Regions from separate parts of the Homo sapiens genome. Here all the other regions are linked to region 1. The links come from fine-mapping of genetic effects on gene expression. A gene starts in region 1. Each other region holds a variant in brackets. All regions are shown on one strand. Distances are from middle to middle. Region 1 holds the start of FBLN2 (fibulin 2). Region 2 overlaps FBLN2 (fibulin 2). Region 3 has its middle 32 kb from the start of FBLN2.

Region 1 (8,172 bases):
GTCAGGGCCATTTAAGCAGGGACTTCCGGGCACTGGCATATGATCTGGAAAGGAGTAGGGGGTCATCAGGGACTCCTGGCGGGCACATCTCATTGTTCTCTTAGACTCTTCACTCTGGGGAGGGACAAAGCTGGAAGAGGAAGGCTAGAGGGAGGTACCCCAAGTGGTGTTTTTCAAATCTGGCAGCACATCTTACAACCTACTGGGGATTACAAAAAAAAAAAAAGTACTGATGCCCAACTCCACCCTCTGGAGACTGGGATTTAATTGTTCTGGAGTAGAGTCTAGACAGTGGTATTTCCAAAACAACAACAACAACAAAAAAAAAAAAACAAAAAAGAGAAATTCCCCAGGTGATTCAGATGCACTGCCAGGTCTGAGAAGCCTTGTTCTAAAGCCTGGGAGCGGGTGTGGTGTCCTGGGTCTTCGTTGGGCAGCAGGATGGCAGGTGGGGCTGTCCCCTGGGGGAGGTGGGCCTATGTCTAGATATCTTTCCTATCGTGTGGAATTCTTCCCCTCGAGGGTCTTGGGGGGCCTGGACACTGACTTTCCTAGTATCTCTTGCAACTGGGGACAGATGGGAGACCCACACTGCCCCCACTGTGGCTGCAGCTGCTGTCAAATGGGAGGTGGGAGAGATGACTAAGCAGGCTCAGGGCCGAACCCACTGCTGGGGAAGGAGAGGCACTGTGACCCTTGGAGGGAGCTGGGGAGAAGTCCTGGCGGGGAGTCCGGGGCCCACCATTCAAGGAGTGGGCAGCCCTCACGCTGTCTGCACCCAGGTGGGCAGCGAGATTTTGGGCCCTGTCACTGGGCCTTTCTCCCCGAAGCTTGGTTTCCAGGCACACTGTGATCACAAATTTCTTTTCTCATCCAAACAGCTCAAGTTAATGTTGTTTGTGATTAACAACAACAAACATTTAATGGAGGGCTTATGATATACCAGACACTGCTGTAAGCATCTTAACTTCAAAACAATCCTATAAGGCAGGAACTTCTTTATAGGCTAGGACACTGAGGCCAGAGGGTTGAAGCCACCTGCTGAAGGTCATACAGGGAGGATGTGGATTTAAATCAAAGCCATTGGGTCCCAGAACCCATGCTCCAACGTAGGCAGCCTCCCCAAGGCTACCCAGTGAGGATGCAGACCCAGGAAGCTCAGCAAGGCTTCTCTTCCCAATCCAGGCTGCACAGGTGGGACAAGTGAGCCTCATGCCTGCTGGCCCTGGCGCCTCAGTGCCCAGGGAGCTGGTGAGATTGTCACTGATGTAAATAACTTCGCTGCCCACTGTGATCATTCTGTCTAGGCCTTATCAGCCTGACTTCCTCCAACCATTTCTCAGCCAGGCCCTGGGCCCCAAATTCCTGGTGGGTGATGCGTGCTCTGTCTGCGATAACAGTCTTGGAAGGGCTCTGAAGGGACAGCCGCTTTGGCCGCATCTCCGGCTCAGATAACAGGACGGGAGAAGTGTCTCCACTTTATCTTGTGGAAGGCGGGCCAGGCCTTGGGCTCCCTGGGCTGCAGAGTGAGCTGCATCTGGCTCAGTGCCTCTCCTCCCAGGCCTGGGGAAGGGAGCCTCATTAGCAGCTGCCCAGGGTCTCTATCACCCCAGGCCACTGCCCCTCCTTCCCCCACAGGAGGAAGGATTCAATCTGTCATTTACTCATCAGATATTTACTGAGCACTCCCTTGGGTCAAGTCCCATCCAAAGTACAGATAATCCCTGACTTACGATGGTTCGATTTAGGATTTTTTGAATTTAGGATGTTGAGAAAGTGGTACACACCCAGGAGAAACCCTACTTGGAATCCCCAGGCAATCATTCTGTTTTTCACTTTCTGTGCAGTATTCAATGAGTTACATGAGATATTCAATGCTTCATTATAAAATAGGCTTTGTATTAGATGATTTTGCCCACCCGTAGGCTAGTAATGGAAGTGTTCTGAGCACATTTAAGGTAGGCTTGGCTGAGCTATGATGTTCTGTAGGTTAGGTGGATGAAATGCATTTTCAACTTACTATATTTTCGATTTACGATGGGTTTATGGGGACATGATCCCATTATAATCGAGGAGCATCTGTACTTTCGGTTTGGCTCATTTCGGTTCATTTGATCTTTCCAATAACATTATAAGATAGGCTTTGATGTCGTTATGTTCATTTTACAGTTGAGGAAATAAAGCCCAGAGAGGTGAAGTAACTTGCCCAAGGTCACACAGCTGGTGTGTGGTGACTTTCTTAATGACCAGGTGATCCTACCTATAGTCATTTATAAATGAATAAGAGAAATCAGCCAGTGACAAGTACTGTAATAACAGTGCGGCCGAGTCCCAGGGTGGAGAGTGGTAGTTGCTACCTCTGCTGGGGTCTCAGGGAGGGCTTCTCTGGGGGTGGTGGGATTTCAGCTGCATCTTAATGCAGGGATGAGTCAGCCACGGTGGATCTGGGGAAGAGCATCCCAGGCAGAGGGAACAGCAATGGCAAAGGCCCTGAGGGAACAGCAAGCACAGAGCTCCAATGGGGAAACGGGCCCAGAGGGAAGGCACCTGCCTGGGGTTAGACACAAGTTGGGGCAGGCCAGGCACAGGCTGCCAGCTCAGGCTTTGGCCCCTCCATCCGCTCCTGGCTTCTCTGTGGGTGGCCCCATCTAAGCCAATGGGCCCTTCCTGGCTCCACCTCCTCTCTGCTGTGCGGCCCTGGGCAGGCAGCTGCCCTGCCCTGTGCCTTTGCTCTTGGCTGCCTCACCCCTGTCCTGGGCTGCAGGGAGACCCCTGGGGGTGGGGGCAGGCACACTTTGGGCCCATGGCTGCTGCTCAGATGTGAGGTGGTGACCACCAGGCCATACGTCTCTGGACAGGGATGGGAGAGACTCAGAGAGACACAGAGACCAAGAGATAAAGTCAGAGGGAGATGCAGAGACCAAGAGGGACAAACCAAGGGAGACAGAGAGATGACATTAGATCAGAGATGGAGACCCCGAAAGAGACCCAGAAAGGGATCGGTGTGGGCTGGGGGAAGAGACACCCCGGGGGTCACACAGTGGTCACAGGCATCAGAGCTGGGCTGAGGAAAAGGACAAACTGAACCTGTTCCAAAGCTGGGGGCTCAGTACCGTCTGCCCAGGCACATGCAGCAGCAGTGGGGCTGCAGGCAGGCCCCCAGGGTAGGAAGCAAGGCGGGTGGGAGGCAGGGCCTGGCCTCTGGGCAGTTTTGTAGCCGGGCCCCTCAGGCCCTCACAATGTGCCCAAGGCTGCTGGGCCCATCTTCCAGGGGTGATCACTGAGGCTCAGGCTGGCTGAGGTGGCCGGACCCCAACCCCTGGCCCTGCCCTGTGGGCAGCAGTGCCAGGTCTGGCACTCAGAGGTTAGGCCGGGCGCAGGGAGGGTGCGGGCTCCGCAGCGAGCGCGCCGGGCGGCCTCTAGGAGCCGGGTCAGCGAGTCTGGGCTCTGAGCGAGCGGCGCCGGCCCGGCCCCCTCTCCGGCGGGCGGCCGAGACCCCGCCCCGGAGGCGGAGGCGGAGTCAGGGGAGGGGGCCGGGGGCCGGCTGGTCCCGCCTCTCGCGCCTCCGCCCCGCCCCGCGCGCACACAGCCAGGGGCCGCCCGGGCTCTCGACGCGCCGACGGCCGGGCGGACGGACGGACGGACGCCGAGCGCAGTGCCCCGCGGTGAGTGCACGCGGCCCCTCCCGCCCGGACTCATCCCCGTCGGTCCGCGCCTCGCAGCTCAGGACTCGGGGGCGCTCGGACGCACCGACGGCTCGGCGGACCCTCGGACGCGCCTCGCGGGCTGCCCGCGCCTCCACCCGCGCCGCCGGTCCGACCGGGTCTCGCTCTCCCGGTCCCAGCGCGGGGACGGCCCGCGAGCGCCGCGACCCAGTGTACAGATGCGGGCACAGAGGCCGGCGCGGGGTGGGGGCCAGGGGTCCGCGGGCGGGTTCCCCCACCCCAGGTCCGCAGCTTCCTCCGCTCTGGGTTTCACTTCTCCCCCCTGGGCCGGCTCCCACCAGTCATCCCCTCTGGTCCCACTGCCCACCCCCACCCCGACCGCAGGACCTTGCCGCCCCTCCAGTCCAGAGGGCCGGGTCAACCCCCTCGGGGAAAGAAGACTAGAGTCCCTGGTCTAACACTACCCCCTCCATCACCCCCAAGTCACACTCACCGCCACACACGCACTCACACAAGCAGAAGTTTCTGCACGCTCTGCATTGGCGCGCCCACCCTGCCTGTCACCACATCCTCCCTCTCCCAGCCCCATGCTCACCCCGCCAGCTCCCCCAGGCCAGAATCTCTCACACTCATCTCACGTCCCCTTAGCACACAATGCTCCACACACACATGCCTTGCACATTGGCACCCCTCCGAGGCATGCCTCTAGCAGACAGTTGTGTCTCTGATAAACACATGTGCCCTTACTGCCCTCTGACACGCACACACGTCCGCCACACAGGGGTAGCTATCACATGCATATCTCCATCATATGTATCACACATGTGTCTCTCACATGCGTGTGCTCCTCAAATACCTGGAATCACAAACACTGGGAGTGCCACACACTGTGAGTCTCACATACGAGTCACAGACCCCCACGACTTCACAGTCCCAGCCCCCCTGGCACTCCATGGGCAGTCCTCCCCTGTCCTAGGGGGTGGGGAGCCGATTTTGGAGGAGGGAGGTGGTTCCTCCTGACAGAGGCTGCTTACCATGGGACCTGGGTGGCTGTGGGGAGCATGGGGGTGGCTCAGCCTCAGGCTGGGCCTGACTCCTCACCTCCGTGCATCCTCTCTCCCTTCCCCTGCTCCAGTCTCCGAAATAGGGGTGCCCTCCCTCCCTTTTTTGCTGCCACAAGGAGTTGCCCATATCAGCTTTGCAGTGATCACTTGGGCCAGTCCCAAGCAGGCCTGAGCCAGCAGGCGTCCCCTGACAGGCCAAAAAGAGAAAAAGGGAAGTCAAACAGGATGGTTTGGGTGCTTGTGTCTACCCTGATGCCCCTGAGATGCTGGTCCGGGCCCTCCCAGAGGGAGCCCTGATGAATTGGGTGGCAGCTGAGAAGTGTTCCCTCAGCCTGGCATGGATTGGGAGCTGGTGTGTGTTTGTGGCTGATAGGGGCTCTGGGCCTTAACTTCCCCATATGCCAAATGGGGTGAAGACTCCCCAGCAGGAGGAAGAGAGGGAGGGGGAGCTACTCCCCTGGGGTGCACCCTTGACTTCCCGCCCTCCCCTTCTGCAGCTGAGCTGTGTGATGGGGGTGAGCAGGGGATGAAGTCAAAGAATCTTATTCTGGAGGCACAAACCTGCCAGCCCCGGCTGTGGCTGGCCCTGCATGTTTTGTTTGGCTCTCACCATGTTATTATTATTTTAAAAAATTAATTAGCTGCCTGCATTTACAAATTGGCAGTTTTCACGTAAAAGTCCGGATTTCCGTCTTCTCTTGAAAAGTCACAAGGTCTGGTAGTTCAGGATCTGCATCTCCTGGCTGGTGCTGCCCACCCCCAACCCAGGGGATGGGGCAGGGGCGCTGTTTGGTCCCCGTCCCCACCTGGCCCTCTCATGCCTTCTCAGCTCCTGCCTGGCCTGCGTGGCCTTTGTGCGGCTGTGACTGCTGCATGCATTGGGCTGATTTTGCTCCATTGCCCGCCTCAAGCATAGGCCCAGGCTGGTCCTCCATGCATGGCTGGGGAAGCCCTGGGCGGGCCTCCTACCCTTCGAGGCCTTAGTCGTTGAAGCAATGAGTGGTGCCCAGGGCCCTGGGCCACAGGGCATCTTTGTGATGGTGGCAGACACTTCCTGCTAGGCTGTGGGGGACGGTGGTATGGGGACCCCGTGAAGCAAGAGCTCATGCCAGAGAGCATTCTCCGAGGCAGGCTTTATTCATCACTTTTCTTCCCAGATCCCGACATCCCTCCTGCAGGGTGGAACTCTTGCACCTATTTAAGAGACGGGGAAGGGGAGGTAGAGAAAGGGCCTCCCAGCAGGCAAGGGGGAGAGCTGGGGTTCAGCCCAGGATCTTTTCCCTCCAAAGCAAAGCTCTTTGCCCCTCTTACTGAGCCACTAGTGGGAGGACTTGGTCTCCTTGGCCGTGGGGGGAGTGCCCTGAGCCCATCCACACCTCACACGCAATAGGTGCTTCGTAAATGCTTGGGGCATGCTGATGGTAAGTGAAACTGGGTTCTCTGCAGCAAATTCGGGCCTAAGGTGAAGATTGCACAGCCACTTGACCTCCATCTCTTGACCTCGTGATCCGCCCGCCTCAGTCTCCCAAAGTGCTGGGATTACAGGTGTGAGCCACCGTGCCCGGCCCCTCCTTTTTTTTTTTTTTTTTAAAGACAGGATCTCGTCCTGTCTCTCAGGCTGGAGTGCAGTGGTGTGATCACAGCTCACTGCAGCCTCAAACTCCTGGGCTCAAGTGATCCTCCAGCCTCAGCCTCCCAAGTAGTTGGGACTACAGACGCACACCAGCCAGCTAATTTTCTATTTTTTGTAGAGATGAGGTCTCACTTTGTTACTCAGGCTGATCTTGAACTCTTGGCCTCAAGTGATCCTCACTCACAGCAGGTGCAGGTGATTGGGTGTGATGAGGAGCTGCTGGTGGATTCTGGTTTGGGGAGGGGTGGGGTCTAATTGAGATCCTAAAGGTCCCTTCCCCCACACTGCTGCTGGCAGGGAACAGGCTGGAGGGCAGCTGTGGGGATCCATGCAGCTTCCAGGTGAGAGAAGTTGGGGCTTGGATTAGGGCAGTGGCAGCATTGGAGGTGAGAGTGGTCAGATTTGGACTGACTTTGCAGGTGGGGCTGCCAGGATTTCTTGATGGATTGGAAGTGGAGTGAGTGAAAGGGGAGGCCAGGGTGAGGCCGGCTGTCCTGCCCGGTGGTGGACGTAAACACCATGCATGGCTTCTGGTCCTTAGCAGCCCTCTGTCATCCAGTTTCCTTCCCCAGGTCCCCGAGTGTGGGTGGTGCAGGTGTCCGTGTGGCTGCAGGCAGCTCTGCCTCCAGGGCGCCTTCTGAATGCTGGGGCTGCAGAGGTCTACCCTCCCAATAGACCAGACAGAGGCGCTGCTCCTGTATGCTACAGGGGCAGAGGGGACCACAGGGCTGTACCTCCAGCCAGGCATTATAGGGTGGTGGGAGCAGTGGGTTTGTGGCTTCACCTCGGGAGGGCTGGGAGCTGTGACTGGGTGTTGTGTGGGGGCGGCCAGGGAGGGGCTCCCTGGAGTTGGCGTTCCTGCTTTAGCAGCTCTATGAAACCCTTTGCCAGGGAGTGTGCCCAGGGCCTTGGATTCTCTTCATCACCCCACAGTGCTGGCAGTAGCCTCTGGTGTGGGCCAATGCTGTGCCAGGGGCTGGTGTACAGAGGAGCGGAACACAGGGCCCCTTTTAAGGTCATCCCCAGGGGTGCCTGCATGGGTTGCTCTGAAATGCTTTGTCGGGGCCATCCTGGAGGAGAACGCTGAAGCCATGGGAACTGAGGAGGCATCTAGCTGAGCCTGGGTGGTCAGGGAGGGCTTCCTGGAGGTGGCGCAGGCACTGTGATATGAAGGTACAGGGGTGAGGGGCACCTGGGGACAGAAGAAAGCCTGGCTTCTTTCAGAGTGGGGGCTTGGAGGAAGAGTGGGAAGTAAGGCTGGCAAGGCCAACTAGACCCTGAAAACGGAGGCCCTCCAGTCCTGGTCTGCGAGCGAGCAACAGGCAGCCTCAGGGCGTTCCGAGCAGAGGAGGCGCGGCCAGACTGTGAGGTTGAAGGGTCCCTCTGCAGCCCAGGTGTAGGAGTGGGCCTGGAGAGGACAAGGCGGCAGGTGGGAGACCTGTGAGAGTGACAGGGCCGGGAAACTGAGGCGCAGAGTGGGGCGTGCTTGCCTGCAGTCACATAGCGACTGAGGAGGAAGAGCTGGGACGGGAGCCAGCTCCGTCCACCTCCAGGTCCTGCCTGGCGAGCTGCCCTCGTGTACGGGGCACCACTGCACGCCCACACCACAAACTCGCCTCAGCTGGGCACGTCCTTTCCCAGGGCCCCTCGTGGGTCAAGCCGTGCGTCATTTTGTGCCATTGTCTTCAGTTATTGGAATTTGGAAACGTTGCAGAAATGCCTCTCTCTCCCCTCATATATGGAGATTGTTGCAAAGCAAGTGCTGGTTTGGGGAAAGGTTATTTCCTTCCTCGAGGGTGGGGAGCCTGGC
Region 2 (8,172 bases), 88 kb after region 1:
TTTCTGTGTAGTAAGAGCCCATCTCTGCATGCCACTCGATGGGGCAGGCCAGCTTTGAGCAGCACTCTCGGTCTTGCCCCTGAGCTGTTGTGGGCTTCTGGGCCTCAAGTCCTTCAGAAGCCCTTGGAAGCCTCTCTTCCGGGGCTGAATTTTGCAGGACTCCCCTGTTTCGTCCTTTTTGCTCTGTCACCCACTTTTGCACATCTGAGTTGCGGCTGACCCTGGCTGTCTCTGATGAGGCTGTGATGGCAGCCCTGGATACGGGGCCTAGTCCAGCTCCCACGTTAGCCTGCGCTCTCCAGGGGCCTGGCAGCGCCGATGGGCGAGGCCCTGGGGCGTTAGGGAAGACCTGCGACTGACCGCCTCCCGCGAGCTTGGTGAGGCCAGGCTGTAGCCGCTCACCCTTCTTGGCCCTTCCCTTCTGGGCATCTCCATCAGCAGCAGCCCAGAGCCAAAGCAAAAAGCTCCCACGTCCTTCCTGCCCCACCCACATAAGCTCCAGGGTCACTGGAGCGGGCCACCGGGGGCATAGGCCAAGGAGCAGGAGGAGGCCCTCTCCATGTGGAGTCCACGAGTGAATAATCAGCAGCCTGGGACCACCCGGTTGGGCTCTACCCTGCCTGGCCTCTTGCCGTGTTTTCTCCCACTCACTTCTGCGCCACCCTGGGGCCTATTTTACGGAGGGAGGGAAGTGAGGCCTGGAGAGGTAAATAGATGTGAGCTGACCCGCTACAAGAGAGCCTGGCAGCCAAGAGCCCAGAGTCTGAGGCGGTCCGGGGGTATTGAGTCCTGGCGTTGCCCTGGCAGCTATGTGACCCTGGGCACATTTGTGGACACCTGCACCTGCCCCGTGGGGTTGGCGTGGGTGCAGAGTCCCTCAAGCATCACAGGGATGTCAGGCAGTAAACTCTGGAGGCAGGCTGACTATTGGTATTATTACTATTATGTTGTTGTTATTGTTAGGAGTCAGCTTGGCATCATGACTGGGTCCCAGATTTTGGCATCAGGCATGCCTGACTTGCTGCCCCGCTCGCTGCTGTGTGATCTTGAGCAAGGCTTTGCCCCTCTCTGAGCCTCCACACCCTCCTCTGTCTGAGGAAGCCAGTGACCCTCGCTGCACAGGGCTGGTGTGAGGACTGAGTGAGGACAAATTCCTAAATGGTGTCAATATGGAGGATTGGAAAACAAAAACTGAAGCCCTCTGTGGTTGCCCCTGGAACACCCCCTGCCCCTACCCCACGGGACTTTCTGGAGGCCTCCTGAGGCGGCCCTCTCTGGGCTGAGCAGCTCATCCTCAAAGTTTCTCAAGAACCCATTTCTAAGACCTTTTGTCCTCCAGGGTGCCTGTGGGTTACACACACACACACACACACACACCCACACACACCCCTACCCCACCCCTGCTTCTCTGAGCTTTCGTGAATGGTATCTATTCATATGTCTGTTGACGTTTATATGTGTATGTTTCTTTGTCCCAAATGGGCCTTCTGTGTGTTTGTTTCTGTGCACCTGTGGAGGTGTGCGTGTGCTCACGTGTGTGCTGAACCTATGTGCCTGTTGGAGTTGCACATGTATGTTTGCTTCTGAATGTACAGGAAGCGTGAGCACGTCTGTTGCTCATGGGGGACATTGACTCATAGCTTTGCGTCTCGGAGTCGGGACTTGCAAGTGATGGGTCTTGGACTTCCATCCAGCAAGAAGTATTGAGCGCTGCTCCATGCAGGCACTCCACTGGGCACTGGGGACAGCATGGGAATGAGAAAGACAAACACCCCTGCCCTCCTGGAGCCCAGGTTGAGGGGGGACGGTAGAAACATACAAAACATGCAGCCATACCAAACAGCCTCGGTGTGTTGCAGAGCATGGAGCCATAGGAGGATGATAAAATGGGGTGGGATGGAGGGTGATGGGGCAGGAGGACCACTGTAGAGTGGTCAGGGAGGCCATCCTGGAGGGGGTGACTCAAGATCTGAGAGTTAAAAGATGAGAAGCCTCCAGCAGTAGGAAAAGCTGGGGATAGCGTTCCAGCAGCAGCAAAGGCCCTGGGTAGGATAAGGGTCAGGCTATTGGGGCAGCCCAAGGATGTCCAGCAGGACTGTGGCCTCTGTGGAAGAGAAGGAGCTTAGAGAGGCCAGAGAGCCTTGCACTGTGTGGCTTGGCATCCAGGGGAGGGAGCTGGGCTTTATTCTGGAGCGCGAGAAGCCTTGGGAGGGCATGACATGAGGTGATTGACACTTTAGAGCCAGGCCCCCTGCTGCGGGGTGCCGAGCAGGTGAGATGGGGCATGTGTGTGCAGGGAGGCACGCGGGCTATTCTCACAGGTCCGGCTGCCGTGGGGCCCAGGCCTTTCATGCAGGCTGGGGAGTTTCAGGCTGGGTCCCCCAGCTGTGGGGACCCTGCCATTGCCCCTCTTCTCCCCCAGACGTGGATGAGTGTGCACTGGGTACCCACAACTGTTCCGAGGCTGAGACCTGCCACAACATCCAGGGTAGCTTCCGCTGCCTGCGCTTCGAGTGTCCTCCCAACTATGTCCAAGTCTCCAAAACGTGAGTGTCCCCACCCCAGTCCCAGTCCCAGGGAGCCTGTCCTGGTCCTGTACTATCCAGGGAGAGGCTGAGAGATGGGCGCCTGCCTTGATCACCTCCCTCTCGTCCCAGCCCCTGACTGCTGGGTCTGTGGGCTAGGTGACCAAAACAAATATAAGTAGCTTTTAGAGAGTTCAGGGTTGAGAGAAGGAAGGGGAAAAGACACACAGAAAACACCAGCCCTCTTCCTCATACACACACATGGTAGTTACTGCTGTGTGACCAGTTATCCCAACCAACATTTAGCACCAGAATACAACAGATACTTACTCTTTGTCACGCAGTGTCTGAGGGCTAGGAGCCTGGGAGTGGTGTAGCTAGGTGGTCTGGCTCAGGATCTCAGGGGCTGCCTGTCCGGGGTGCGGGATCCTGCCACTGCTCATGGGGCTCTGGGCAGGAGGCCTCAGCTCCGCATCACATGAGCCCCTCCACAAGGCTGCTTGTGACATGCCACTCCCCAGCTCAGTGTATCAGAAGTGCCAGCGGCAGCCCCTTAACCTCACTTAACCTCAGAACTGACAGACCGCTACTCTGCCACCAGCCACACGGCCCGGCACTTGGGAGGGACCCTGGGAGGGACACTGGGTGCACTGGGAAGAAGGGAGAAGGAGGAGGAAGGGAAGGGGAGAGGGAAAAGGAAGGAGAAAGGAAGAATGGGAGGATGGCAGGAGGGAGGAAGAAAGGAGCATGGGGACAGGTAAGAGCTGTTAACGAGCCTGGCCAGTGCCATGCTAAACTCACCCATTCCAGTGAGCCGGTGAAGGTTTTATTAACCTCATCTCGCAGGCAAGGAAACTGAGACCCAGGGGACGTAAGGGGACTTGCCTGAGGCTTCCCGGCCATTAGGGAGAGAGCTGGCCCTTGATCCTGCCGCTGAGCTGTGCCATCTGTGTCCCCGTCTGGGGATGAGGGGGGTGGGCGAGCTGTGGGTGACCCGGCCTATCCTCCCTGCAGGAAGTGCGAGCGCACCACGTGCCATGACTTCCTGGAGTGCCAGAACTCGCCAGCGCGCATCACGCACTACCAGCTCAACTTCCAGACGGGCCTCCTGGTGCCTGCGCATATCTTCCGCATTGGCCCCGCGCCAGCCTTCACGGGGGACACCATCGCCCTGAACATCATCAAGGGCAATGAGGAGGGCTACTTTGGCACGCGCAGGCTCAATGCCTACACGGGTGTGGTCTACCTGCAGCGGGCCGTGCTGGAGCCCCGGGACTTTGCCCTGGACGTGGAGATGAAGCTCTGGAGGCAGGGCTCCGTCACCACCTTCCTGGCCAAGATGCACATCTTCTTCACCACCTTTGCCCTGTGAGGTGCCAGCACGGGCCACCTGCGGGTGTGGCGCAGCCCAGGGCTCACACTGCGTGGGAGGGACTGGGTCACTATTGTGGTTTTTACTATAACTTTGTAAATTAACTTAATTTTGCTGACTTGACTCCTGTGGCTTCTGGACCCCTCCTCTGCCCCGCAGGAGGAAGTTCCACGGCAGGTGGTGCGTTCCCACGCAGGCACCAAGTGGAAGCTTGCACGGTGGGCCACGGCCGTGGCGGGTGCCCTGTGGGTGAGGCTGGGTGATGACCTGAGGACCAGAGACACGCGACCATGTTGGGGCTCTTGGACTCCTCTGGATGACCCGTCCCCAAAGTTGACATTCCATTTCATGTTCCACTGTGATTAATTCTTTTCTTTTTTAAAAAATCATTTTAAAGTTTTTTGTTTAA[C/T]TATAAAGTAGTACATGTACATTATATAAAAAAAAGTTCAACTAGTATGAAAGGGTTATAAAGTAACAGAGGAAAACGCCTCTTGGTCCCTTTACTTTTGTAAAGTGTTCAGAGTTTGACAACGTTGTCCAGATGTCACAGGGCTCTATGGCCTGGCCAGCATGTCAATTCATTGATGAAGACCTTGATGTCCTTCTCAACGAGCCCCGAACCTGAAGTTCACTTTGGGATGAGGGCACCCCAGTGTGATCAGTCACTGACCAGGCTCTTTATTCTGCTTTTACCACTTCAGCTTTCCCTCCTCCTTCCTCCTCCCTCCTCCCTCCTCTGCCTTCCCCCCATGAAGACCTCCACTGATGGCCTGTCACTTGGATGTTGTCCAGAACTTGTCCTGGCCCCTGTTGCTGAGCTGTCAGGTCAGGCAGTAGACCTGGGCAGGAGCCTGAAGGAACCTGGGAAACTGAGGCCCTGAGAGCGGAAGCGATGTGCCCCCAGCCCACAGCGAGCATCAGAGCAGGTGTCGGGACCCAGCTCTGATGACCCTGCTCGGGCTCCGTGGGTCTAGAGTTAAATATAGGGGGCGGCAGCCAGCACTTTTAAAATGACGTAGAATAGAGCAGATGAGATATGAGTGCTTCACACCCTGTAAAGAGAAGAACTGCTTCACCAAACCACAGTACATGGGGCGTGTGCACCTATGCGTGGGCACGCTAGCTCTGGCTTTTGGTAGAAAGTGTTTCTCACTGTGGGTGGAGGGAAGCAGGCCTGTCGGGGCGCGCTGGGCAGCACATGCCCTGTGTGAAGGGGGCGCCTACACTTGGCTCCAGCAAGGCCGCCTTCTGGGCGCGTGGCCCGGGATGGCCAGATGTTCTCATTCCTCAACACAAACTCTCTCAGTGTTAAGAGGTGGCGACTTGCTCAGGCTTCTAAAGGACAGGTGTTTGGGAGCCTCTTGCCGGAAGCCTGCGGTGGGGGCCCTCTGTCCCTGCTCCTCGCCGGCCCCCATCCCCAAGGGTGCAGCAGAAGCCAGGTCTTCCCTGTCCCTGTCCGGGCTGTCTCTGTTCCTTCTATTTTGCTGATTTTCAGAAAAACTAGATCCGGCACCTTTGTGGTGCACAGTCCCCACCAGCGGGAACCAGTAGGTGACAGGCTCCATTCAACAGGACAGGCAGGTTAGGGACACCCCTGGCTGGCAGCAGCCGTTCCTGCTCCTACCCAGCCCCGGTTACTCCTTCTGGGACCTCAGGCAAGTGACTTCGCCTCCCCTCACTGGTCTCCCCTGTGAACAGGGGCTCCAGCTGTTCTTCCTGCACAGGCCATCGAGCCAGTAAAATGAACTTGGCACCCAGCGCATCCATACGGAGGGTCTTGGAGAACAACTTCTCTCCGGACCTTAGAGTTTCTAAGGTGATTCTAGAATTCCATGCCGGCAAGTTTGGCAAACTGCAGCTTCAGGGAATAGCCCCTACAAGACTACCCTCACTGCAGACCAAGAACTGCACACCAGAAACAAGCTCAGGCATCCCTAGGACCACCCTCACGTCTGAGCAATGGGCTACAGGTTTGGGGGTCCTTACATCCACCCTCAGGCTCATTAATTCACCTGCATGACTCAGACAGTTTATGGTGAAAGGAAGCAGGTTAAAGTCATTGATGAATTCTAGAGCAGAGTCCAGGAGAGCCCAGTCACGGAGCTCCCGTGTCCTCAGGATGCAGCACAACAGAATAGAGCTGAACAGGGCACCTTTGGGGTCCAGGTGTGTCTGGGAGCTTGACCACCTGGCTGTCAGCGTGGCTGGCCCTAAGTCTCCAGTCCCTCGCAGAGGTCAGAACTGAGGCAGCAAAGCCCCTGAAAACGCTGGTACTCCAGTGCCAGCCAGGACGTTCTGGGGGCCGAGAGCTCACCCTGCAGGCCACCCCCGGCCCCGGCCCCAGCGTTCTCGCAGTGGAATAGTCACGTTTGTCTGGGCAGCTCCTTCAGCGTTGCCTGCTTCCTCCCTTGTGGCAGGGCTGCCCGTGCCTATGAAGCATGTAAAGAACCACCGTGTGCAGGCGTTAGCCCGGGGTTGGCTCCACCTAGCTCTTCCGCAGGTGTCATTCTCCATCGTTGCTACATCCTGAGGAGGCTGGAACTCAGGGTTTCAATACATTTGCCATCACCATCAACGTTATAACCTTATCAACCGTGCCAGGTAGGACCATATTGCAGTCTGGTGGATGTCACCTAAAAAGGAAGACCGGAGTCCCACTCAGTCATAGCAGTTTATCTAGTCCATCACCACATCAGATCAGCAGATGTCCCCCAGGGTGAGGCCACTCAGGTTTGCAGGCTGCCATTCGACCTTGTCAAGTTCCAAAAGCAGAGGCGGCCTTGGCGTCACCCTTTCAGGCATCTAGTGTAGTTGAGCTGAGACGATGCCCTCCACGCCGCTCTTAAGGTAGTACTGTAATGTAGGATTCACGTAAAATTGGATTTCCCGGCCGGGCGCGGTGGCTCACGCCTGGAATCCCAGCACTTTGGGAGGCCGAGGTGGGCGGATCCCCTGAGGTTGGGAGTTAAAGACCAGCCTGACCGACATGGAGAAACCCCATCTCTACTAAAAATACAAAATTAGCTGGGTGTGGTGGCACATGCCTATAATCCCAGCTACTCAGGAGGCTGAGGCAGGAGAATTGCTTGAACCAGGGAGGCGGCGGTTGTGGTGAGCTGTGATTGTGCCATTGCACTCCAGCCTGGACAACAAGAGCGAAACTCCGTCGCAAAAAAAAAAAAAAAAAAAAAAAAAAAAGGATTTCCCTCACTACATAACCCACGTACTGGTTGCTTTACCCTCAGCTCCGGTTCCTCCTTTTCTCCATTTGTATCCAGGTATTTCCACCTTTGGAAGGGCCATGAGGTTCGGCCATGCTGTTGGGCCGGATTGTCAGAAGCAATGCCAGCCTAGCAAGTGCCTCCCTGACAGTCCACTCCGGTTGGTGTAGGATGGGGCTTCACAGGTGTAGAACTAGTGGGCTGTCTCCACCACCAGGCAATGTGCCTGCCCTCACTAGCAGCCCTGATTTTTCCGGATGGGGTGAAGGCACCATCCACTCCATCAGCCCTCAGGAGCTCTGGCATGAAGCTTTGGAGCTAGAGGTGCACCCTCCTGCCTAGGAGTCATTGCTACCTCAGCACTTGCAGCTGCAGCCCTGGTCCTGGGGCCACTGCAGCAGATAGGAAAGGAGGAAGGCGAGGTGATGTGGAGAAGAAAAGAAAAGCAGTCTTACCAGCAACCTCCCTTCCCCAGTTCTCTTAGAAAAGGCATAGGAGGCCAGGCACAGTGGCTCACGCCTGTAATCCCAACACTTTGGGAGGCCAAGGCGGGTGGATCACTTGAGGTCAGGAGTTCGAGACCAGCCTGGCCAATATGGTGAAACCCCATCTCTACTAAAAATACAAAAAAAAAAAATTTAGCCGGATGTGGTGGTGCACGTCTGTAATCCCAGCTGCTTGGGAGGCTGAGGCAGGAGAATCGCTTGAACCCGGGAGGTAGAGGTTGCAGTGACCTGAGATCGCATGACTGCACTCCAGCCTGGGCAACAGAGTGAGACTCAAACAAAACAAAACAAAACAAAAACAGAAAAGAAGAGGTGTGGGACTCTATCTAGCAGGGACCCTCTCCTGGCCCTTCTCATGTTTGGGGTGGACACACACTTGTGATGGCGTGCAAGTCACTCTTTCCTGCCCCACCACCTCTGTTTTAGACAACCAGTATCCATGACATGTTCCAGTTCTCTATCCAACCTTACGCCAAGGATGAGAGTGCTCTGCCCCTTGTGGGACATTCAGGGCTGTAAAGTGTGTCCCTTGGTCGGGAGAAGTGTGA
Region 3 (8,172 bases), 32 kb before region 1:
CAAGGCTCTCCCAGCCAGGGTGGTAGAGCCCGGGGCTGACACCTAGCTGGCCGCAGTCACCCCCACACTGGGTGCCCTGTGGGGTGTGACCTCTCACACCCCTCAAAGGGGTGCAAGTGGAGGCTTGGGGCTGTGGGAACCATCTGGGACTTCCCAGTTTCTGGGACTTTCCTAGCCCCTGCCAACCCTGAGAGGCTGAGTTTCTCAGGGTGTGCCCTGGTCTTGGAACCAGAGGGAAGGGATCAAGTGTGAGGGGGGCTCCTGCTGTGGCAGTGGGGAGTGTGCAGGGGCCTTGCCAGAGGCCCGCTCCCTTCTGGGACCCTCCAGCCAGTGTGCGCATTCCACCGGTTGTCTCGGTAACCGATACCAGGCGGCCAGACAAAGTTACCGTGTGTGTCTGGGAGGCTATTTTGTCTAATATGCTAAAAGGCCTTTGGAAATTCCTGGAGCCCATCTGGTCCTAGTTACCCCACAATATTGCTGCCTCTTCAGCTCACAGACAAGGGAACAGTTTTATTTCTCCTTTTGGAGCTCAGGAATGTGCCTTAAACACGAGCCGGCAGACGCCCACTTGGTGCACGAGTTCCTTGGTCACGTGTCACACTCATCGTCCTTTAAAAAAGGACTGCTGCTCTTTCCCCTTGGCTCCCCAATCCCAAAGGGTCCCTCCCAACCCCATTACCTAGAGAGTGATGTGGGGAGGGCAGATGCTTCGGGGGTGGGCCCGCCTGACTGCGATGTGCCCGGCCTCTGCGTTTTCTCTCCTGTGTCCTGGGGATGGGAACTCCTGAGAATGGAATGCAGCCTGGTGTGTGGTAGGTGTTTGGTACATGCAGGTTTCCCAGCTGGCTCTGTGAACTTAAGTAGGTCCCTTGACCCATCCAAGCCCCAGTAGCCTGCTCTGTAAAACCGGGCTGGAAAGTGTGGTACAGGAGTTTAGGAAGGTCTCAGCCACACCAGGGGATGTGGATGATTGGTCCTTACTCACCCGGCGCTTCTGCCCACCCATGGCTGCCTCCAGAGGGTGTGAACACATCCAGGGCTGCACATCTGAAGCCTCTCTTGCGGGCAGAAGAGATGTCTTCAGGTCCAGCTGCTCCCATGCTTTTTGCGGGGCCGGAGTGTGTTTCTTCCCTGGAGTTCTTGTCCCTTTGGGTTTTTCGGGTTCCTCTGGCCGCAGTGCCCAGAGGCTGGGTGTGGCCGCTCCAGGCTGGCTGAGTCTTGGCAGCTGCCCTACATGGTTGCCTGGGGCCAGGTGACATCCTTCTTGCTTCCTTGAAGAGCTCCCTCTCCCCAGTCCCAGGCTGGAACAGTCACAGTGCCCTGCCCACCTAGGCTATGATTCCAGGGGCTGTGTAAGTGTGTGATTCAAGCTCAGATAACCCTAGACCAGGCTTCTTCCAGGCTGGGCAGGCCTGCACCTCCATCCCCTGCATGGCTAGACGTGGCATGTACTTGTTTTATGAACCATGAGCTCAGTGGCTTGTGTGCCCTCCAAGTGGAAGCTTTAAGAGCCAGTGTGCGATTCTCCACAACCCCTTTGCCACAGCGATGGAGGGAGCACATTTCAAGCTGTAGCCCCCGACAGTCTGGGTCCCTGAAATCCCAGATGACTCAGGTCTCCCAGTCAAACCAGGGCTGACATCCAGTGTGAGCGATAAATAAACCTTGATTGTTTAAGCTCCTGATGCTTAAGGGTGGTTTGTTTCTGCAGCATAACCTTACTGATATCAGCCTGGCTGATACACTTTCCATTTCCCTGATCATAGGGATGGTTTAGAGATATCATGTGACTCAAGAGTCCTTACATTACTTTTACATTTTGAGTGGAAGAGGAAGGACTTTATCTTCTGAGTTATCAAGTTTTAGAGAAGCCATATTTCCCACCACAAACAGAAAGCCTGTCTGAGGTATGAAATAGTAAAACGAAGGGAGAAAAAGAAAAAACATGATGGAAAAGAGGGAATTCTGGTGATGTCAAGATAGGGCTGCCATGAGCATCTGCACAGGTTGTGCACTGCACAACTCTCGAGGCTGCTGTTACACGGTAATCACAGTAGATTTGTGTATTGATTAAAATAATTTTCTAGTAGGCACTAGTAAAGTATTTTGAAGAAGTGGAGCCTTTTTCTAATTTGCAAACAATTGCTGCAAAGGCTAGTGACCATGCCATAATCAAGACCCTGATTTTAATCCTTGAGTCCCCAGAGCTTCTCTAGCTCGATAAGTACTTGGTGTAATTTATTATTTTGGTGAATTCCCTTTGTTGTTAAGTTCTGCTCACAGCAGAACCATTGATAACTCAGACACTCACAAGATGCATCAAGCTTATTTTCTACTTTCCAGAGCAAACCCTTAGCGCTTTTAGAAATAACAGCTCAACAATAAGAGAGAGACAGAACAACCGTTAAATGCAGACATAAGAACAAGAATAACAACAAAATATCAGTTTGGGGCCATTTGTGTAGGTGCAAGTAACGTTCCCTATCTCACTGAGCACCAAGACCTTCACTGTACTGGTCTGTGGCCTGAAAATGGTTCACCATGGTAATTAACGCAGAGAAGACATTGTGTAGACTTCATGTCCTCTTAAAATAGTTAAATTATAACTGTGTTGTTGTCTAAAAGGAAAGACCAAAATTATCTAGAGAGTTCTCATCTGTGTGGCTTAAGCTAGATGAATAACGTATCATTGTAAAAGGATAGTGTCAGCCAAGGTCCAGCCCCCAGCTGTCCCCAGTGTAGGAGGTGGCCCCACTGGCAGCATCCCTGACACCACTCTGACCTGCTCAGGACAGCTCTTTCTCACTCCCCTAAATGCCAGGAGTTTCCAGAAAAAGTCTGGGGGAGGCTGTGGGCTCTGGGGTCAGACACTCTGGGGTGGGGTCCCTTTCCAGCAAGGTGACTCTCAGCAAGTGGTTCCCCGACTCGGAGCCTCGGCTACCGCTTCTCTAAAATGGCAATGGCCATACCCACCTGGGGGGCCATTGGGAGGGTCGGGCGGGCCTGGGAATGACCCAGCACACAGTAGGTGCTCAATGAGAAGCAGCTGGCACCAAGGTGGGATCTGGGTGAGTTCAGAGCCCAGGCACGAGGGCTCAGAATCTCAGCTCGGCCTTGCTGAGTGCTTGGGCGATTCACTTCGTCTCCCAGAGCCCCAGTTTCCTCAGCTCAAACTGAGATCCCCAGGGAGTTGAAACAAGCAAGCATTCTTGAGACTGTGTGTTTCCTTGCCTGTTCTTCCTGCCAGGCAGTAAAGGGGCAGGATTGGGTCTGTCCCTGACTCGACCCCCGGAACAGGGCCTGCGGTGCTTAGTAGGCGCTTGGTAAAGACTCAGTCATTTGCTCCAGTCGGGAGGGAAGTTGGCTGGTGCCTGCTGGGGGGCTCCCCCTGCCCTTCTGACTGTGGGGAGCAGGCCCAGAGCCGACTTTGGCCAGGCCGGGGTAGAGGCCTGCTTCTGCCATCCCTGGTGGGCCCCAGCGTCTCCTCTGAATCCCCACCCTGCTCCTGAGCAAGTGCTCCCATCCCCCACCCTGCTCTGGCGGCTTGGCATAGGTGGGACACCAAGCCTGGAGCTCCCGGCTGCTCCAGCCACCCGAGCCAGCCCCACAATTGTTTTTCCACCTGGAGCGTCCAAGGAGTTGCTGGCAGCCAGGCCAGGCGGGGGAGGCGGGGGGCGGTGTTGGAGGAGACATCAGTGGGCGTGGGAGGAACAGGCTTCACCCTTTCCATCCACAGGGGTACCGGTACTGGGATAAACTGGACGGCACTGGTCAGGGCCCACTTTCCTTTGACCTTAGGTGAATGACTTAACCGCCCCAGTCTCATTTACTTCATCCATAAAATGGGGATAATATTAGTAGCTGCCTCTTGGGGTTGCTGTGAGGAATAAATGCGTCAGCTCATGTAAAGCACTCAGAACCATGCCCAGAAGCAAGTGGTCTTGATGGCAGCCCTTGCTATAGGCACTCTAGGCTGGATGCGAGGGTTCTGCCGCACACAGCTGCCTGGTGTGGGCCAGCCACGTCCACTGTCTCTGCGTACCATGTGCACCCACAGCAAGCCTCCGGAGGTGACAGCCCCTCACAGAAGCTGCAGGAAGTAGAAGCGGAGTGGGTGGCAGCTCCCTCCCTTGCTTCCTCAGCTTTCTCTCCCCTTCTTTCTTCCACCAGCCTGGCAGGTGCCCCCAGAGGCAGGGGATGGGTCCCCTGACCTCGGGGAGGACCCCCAGCCCCATCAGCCGCGGAAATGGTGGACCCGCGGGCCCTGGGCTACTGCCATGCTGCAGCCCTCGGAGGAACTGAGCAGGGACAGGGCCAGCCTGGGTCACCCGATGCAGCTGCACAGATGTCAGGCCCGGCATAGCCGAGGTGTGGTCAGGCTAGGTTCCCCTGGGCCCCGCTATGGGAACAGGCTGTCCCGACAGCCTGGCTGCCATCCCTTGCTGCTGTTGTTTGGAAGATAGAGCAGTCATCAGCCCCAGCCCCCGGCAGCCCCACCCTCCCCT[C/T]GGCTTCTGCAGCTCCCAGGCCTGGGACAGTCCCTGGCTGACCCAGGTTGTGCACTGGGTGGCCTGAGGCAGGCCCTGACCCTCTGTCGGCCTCCATCTTTTACCTCTACTGAGAAACCGGGGGCGGAGCCCTCTGTCCCTGCTGCCCTTCCAACTCAAGGCCCAGGAAAAAGGACAGGAGGCACATGGTGGGGTCCGGGGCCAGGGTGCTCACATGTGCTTAGTGAGCACCAGGAGCCACCTTAGAAGGAAGGTGAGGGATCTGTAACCTTGGTCAGGACAGCCACACAGGAACTGTCTCCTGGACCCAGGAGGAGCAGCAGGACCCAGCCTTCTAGGCAGCAAGGGAAACTGAGGCAGGAGCCCAGTTATAGGGCCTAATAAACTTGATCCAGGAGGAGGCAGCTACTGCGTGGAGACTTGGGCTCCAAGGTCCTTGTGAATCCAGGGTCCAAGACCATCGACCTCCAGCCCTACCCACTGATGGGAAGGAGGCTGCCATCTTTCCCATGCCCGCTCAAGTGAGGCTCAGGCCCCAAGCATGGCAGGCTGGTTTCAGGGGCATTGAAAATGGGTCCTGGGTTCAATCCTGCCTGTGCCACTTCCTGGCTGTGTGACCTTGGGCAGGTCCTTTCTCTCTTTTTCTCCATTTCTTCTATAAAGCGGGACAGTAATGCCACCAACACAATGCCGTAGAGGTAAAGCTTGGCTGTCATGTACACCAAAGGCTTGGTCTGCAGTCTGACCTCTGTGCCTCTGTCTTCCTCCACCTCCCCTTATCCATCCAGAGGGCCCGAGGAAGGAAGCAGGCACGGGTGGGGTTTGCTCTGGCACTTGCTTCGGAGTCCTTGGATACCTCCAGGCAAGTCCTTGATGCTTTTCCCAAACGATGCCAGCCCAGGGATGGATTCTCTGCCTATGGGAACTTGGGTCCATCCCAGGAATGTAGGCCAGACGGTGGGGAGGAGAAAGTGCAGGGTGGAGGCTCGGCCAGCGTTCTACCAAGGTCTCTCGGGCACGAGGTGAAGAGTGGGCACCCGCCTGCAGAGGCAGTGCCAGGGACTGTCGGCCTGGGCTCAGCACAAATGTTGTGGCTGCCCCCCCAAGGGTTGGTGGCAGGAGGCCCGGGGAAGCCTGCAGGCGGGAGCAGATATGTTCTGCTTGGAAGGATGCTTGGGACAAAGCCAGCTCCGGGAGCTCCTCGTGTGGCTGGACACATGGGGCAATTCCTGGGCTAGGGGAGGAAGGCGGCGCCTGCTGAGGGGAGGGAGGGCATCTTGCCAGGGTTGGCAGAGTCTAGGGCCTGGGAGCTGGGACCAGGCATCAGGGCCTGGGGCCAAGGCCTTGGGAGGGCTGGCGAGACCCAGGCAGGCCCCAGCCCGTGGGCCTCGCAGACCAGGACTCTGGGTTCACTGTGCCTTGGGTGTCGCACACTCAGCCCTGAGTTGTCCTCAGGGCTGGTCCTTCCCTTCCCCGAGGCTGACCCTGGAGGGGCGGCTTCCTGGGTTGGGGGAAGCTTGGTGACAGTGCTTCGGCTGACTTTGTCTCCAGAGTCCCCTCTTCCCTCCCCAATGACTCCAGACCTCTGGGGGTGGGCGAGGCCGGGTATCCTTCCCTCCTCTGATACCCTGGCCCCAGCATTACTGGAAGTCCTGCCCCCAGGTCCTATGACACACAGGGCTGGACTGTTTGGAAGACATTCTAATGAGGACAAGAGGGAAATAAACACGGAGAGTCTGGGGAGTGGGACAATGGTGTGTGTGCGTCTGTTGGGAAGGCCTTCCTGCAGTGGTGCTGATGCTGCCGCCCGATACCCACAGGATTAGGCTGAGACTGCACTGCCCCTACCCCGAAACCCCATCTTTGCCGCTCCTGCCTCCCTGGCTGCCTGGCAGGCCTCTCCCAGCACTGCGGGAGTTCTGCCCCCATTCTCCTCCATCTCCTCTCCCAAGAGGCAGCCAGGCTGAGATTGGGGGCCCTTTCCCTCTTTGGTCCCCCGTCAGGAGGTGGGATGAGGTCCCCAAGGAGTCCCCACCCATTTGCAGCCTGAGCATTGGAGAGACTGCTGGGGCTGGGGCGGGGCCAGGGAGCTGGGCACCCACAGCGACCCCAATGGACCTCAGAGCGCCGCAGCCCCTGTCTCAGCTGCAGGAACATGGAGAGCGTGGGTGGAGCTCCATGCTAGCTTGCAAGTCCTCTAGCTCCGACAAGAATCAAGCCATCAGCTTCTCTTCCTCCTAGAGAGGTCCACTGGCTGCAGAGCCTCCAAGTGTCTGGACCCAGAGCTTCTAGCCCACCCTTGAGCAGCCCAGCAAACTCAGTGCTCTGAAAGCTCAGGGGCTTTCGGCCTGAGGAGCTATTCCAGCCCAAGAGGGCTTCCTGGAGGAAGAGACGTTTGAGCTAAGCATTCTAAGCAGAAGGAACAGCATGTACAAAAGCCCAGGGGCACGAGAGAGCAGGCCCCTTCCAGAAGTGGTGGGTGGCCATGGCTAGAAGCCTGGGAGACTGAGGACAGGGAAGAGCTTTGGTATTTTGGATGCCTTCTCCCCACTTCAGGCCTCATCTTGTTTTGGTCTTCCCCAGCCCCTGACCTGGGCCCCTCCCTGGCTCTGCTACTTGCTTGTTGTTAGTCTTGAGCCAGTTACCTTTTCTCTCTGAGTCTCAGTTTCCCTATCTGTAAAATGGGGTGGAGCCTCCCTCCTCCCACAGCTGTTGTGAGGAAAACACCAGCATGAACTTGGCTAAACCCTCTCCCAAGGCCTGGCACAGAGTAGGGCTAACAAGGGAAAAGTGAAAGAACAAAACAGCAACATCAACATAGTGTTTTCCCCTCCTTGCCTTCCGTTGGAACTTCTGTCCTCAGGAAACCTCAGTCCCATCTCCAGGGAAGAATAGAGATCCTGGGCCTGAAGGCTTTTCTGTTTTGGCCTCCCTGTGTGATGCCAAATGAAACCCACCTCCTTCCCGACCCTCAGTTTCCTCATCTGTGAAATGGGAGGGAGGAACCACAAGGCGGTTTGCAAATGACAGCCAGCCCCGCTGCAGTGTGTCCTCCTTTCTGTCATGAGGAAGACCACCTGGATCGCCTACACTGGGACACTGAGGCCCATGGAGAAGGACGGAGTCCCTGCCCTGCACATGCTGTGTGGCCCTGACAAGTCCCAACACTCCCTAGGCCTCTGTCTCCCCGCTCCTGCTCTTTCCAGGCTGTTCTTGGAACTTGCTGGATGGAAGGGACTCCAAGGCAGGGGGCAGAGAAGGCTGAGGGGAGGAAGGGCGCTTGCCCTGGGCGCCCAGGTGCTGCTGGGGTGAGACAGTGCTGAGCTACCTCAGGGGGCCCCCACCCCACCTGCATGTCCCTGCCCCCAAAGGCCTTTCCACCCCTTCAGCCCCACAAGGCAGGTATCAATCCAGAGATGACCCTGCTAGGCCCAGGGAGAGGCTGGCAGTGTAGCCAGGAACTCTGGGTGACTGCTTGGTACCAGCATCCCTTCCTGACAGCCCCACGGGACACTGGACTCTCAGGCCAGAAGCCCCACTCCCAGAGGGGCCAGTGTGTGAGCTGCTGGGAAGAGCAGCTGTCCCGGGCAGGGAACCTGGGGGTTCCTGAGAAGGGAGGTCATTTTACTACGCTCTCTACTTCTGCTAGAAACTTTCTGAAATA

What was found. PIP is the estimated chance that this variant, and not a neighbour inherited with it, causes the effect.
Region 2: its variant is fine-mapped to the expression of FBLN2 in tibial nerve (GTEx, PIP above 0.99). The same link has a PIP of 0.9 or more in thyroid.
Region 3: its variant is fine-mapped to the expression of FBLN2 in thyroid (GTEx, PIP 0.99). The same link has a PIP of 0.9 or more in tibial nerve.

What each region holds. Positions count from the first base shown.
Region 1 is chr3:13,545,544-13,553,715 of GRCh38, forward strand. FBLN2 (fibulin 2) reads left to right here and starts at 3,582. Exons shown (of 18, transcript NM_001004019.2): 1 at 3,582-3,665. RefSeq lists enhancers at 4,945-5,553, 5,554-6,160.
Region 2 is chr3:13,634,023-13,642,194 of GRCh38, forward strand. It overlaps FBLN2 (fibulin 2), which reads left to right. Exons shown (of 18, transcript NM_001004019.2): 17 at 2,423-2,546; 18 at 3,540-4,382. The coding sequence ends at 3,897. Among named protein-coding and RNA genes, the nearest start is that of LINC00620, 13 kb to the right of the region's middle. The variant C/T (reference allele first, on the strand shown) is at 4,307.
Region 3 is chr3:13,513,047-13,521,218 of GRCh38, forward strand. No RefSeq gene overlaps it. Among named protein-coding and RNA genes, the nearest start is that of FBLN2, 32 kb to the right of the region's middle. RefSeq lists enhancers at 18-177, 2,924-3,852, 5,226-6,115. The variant C/T (reference allele first, on the strand shown) is at 4,509.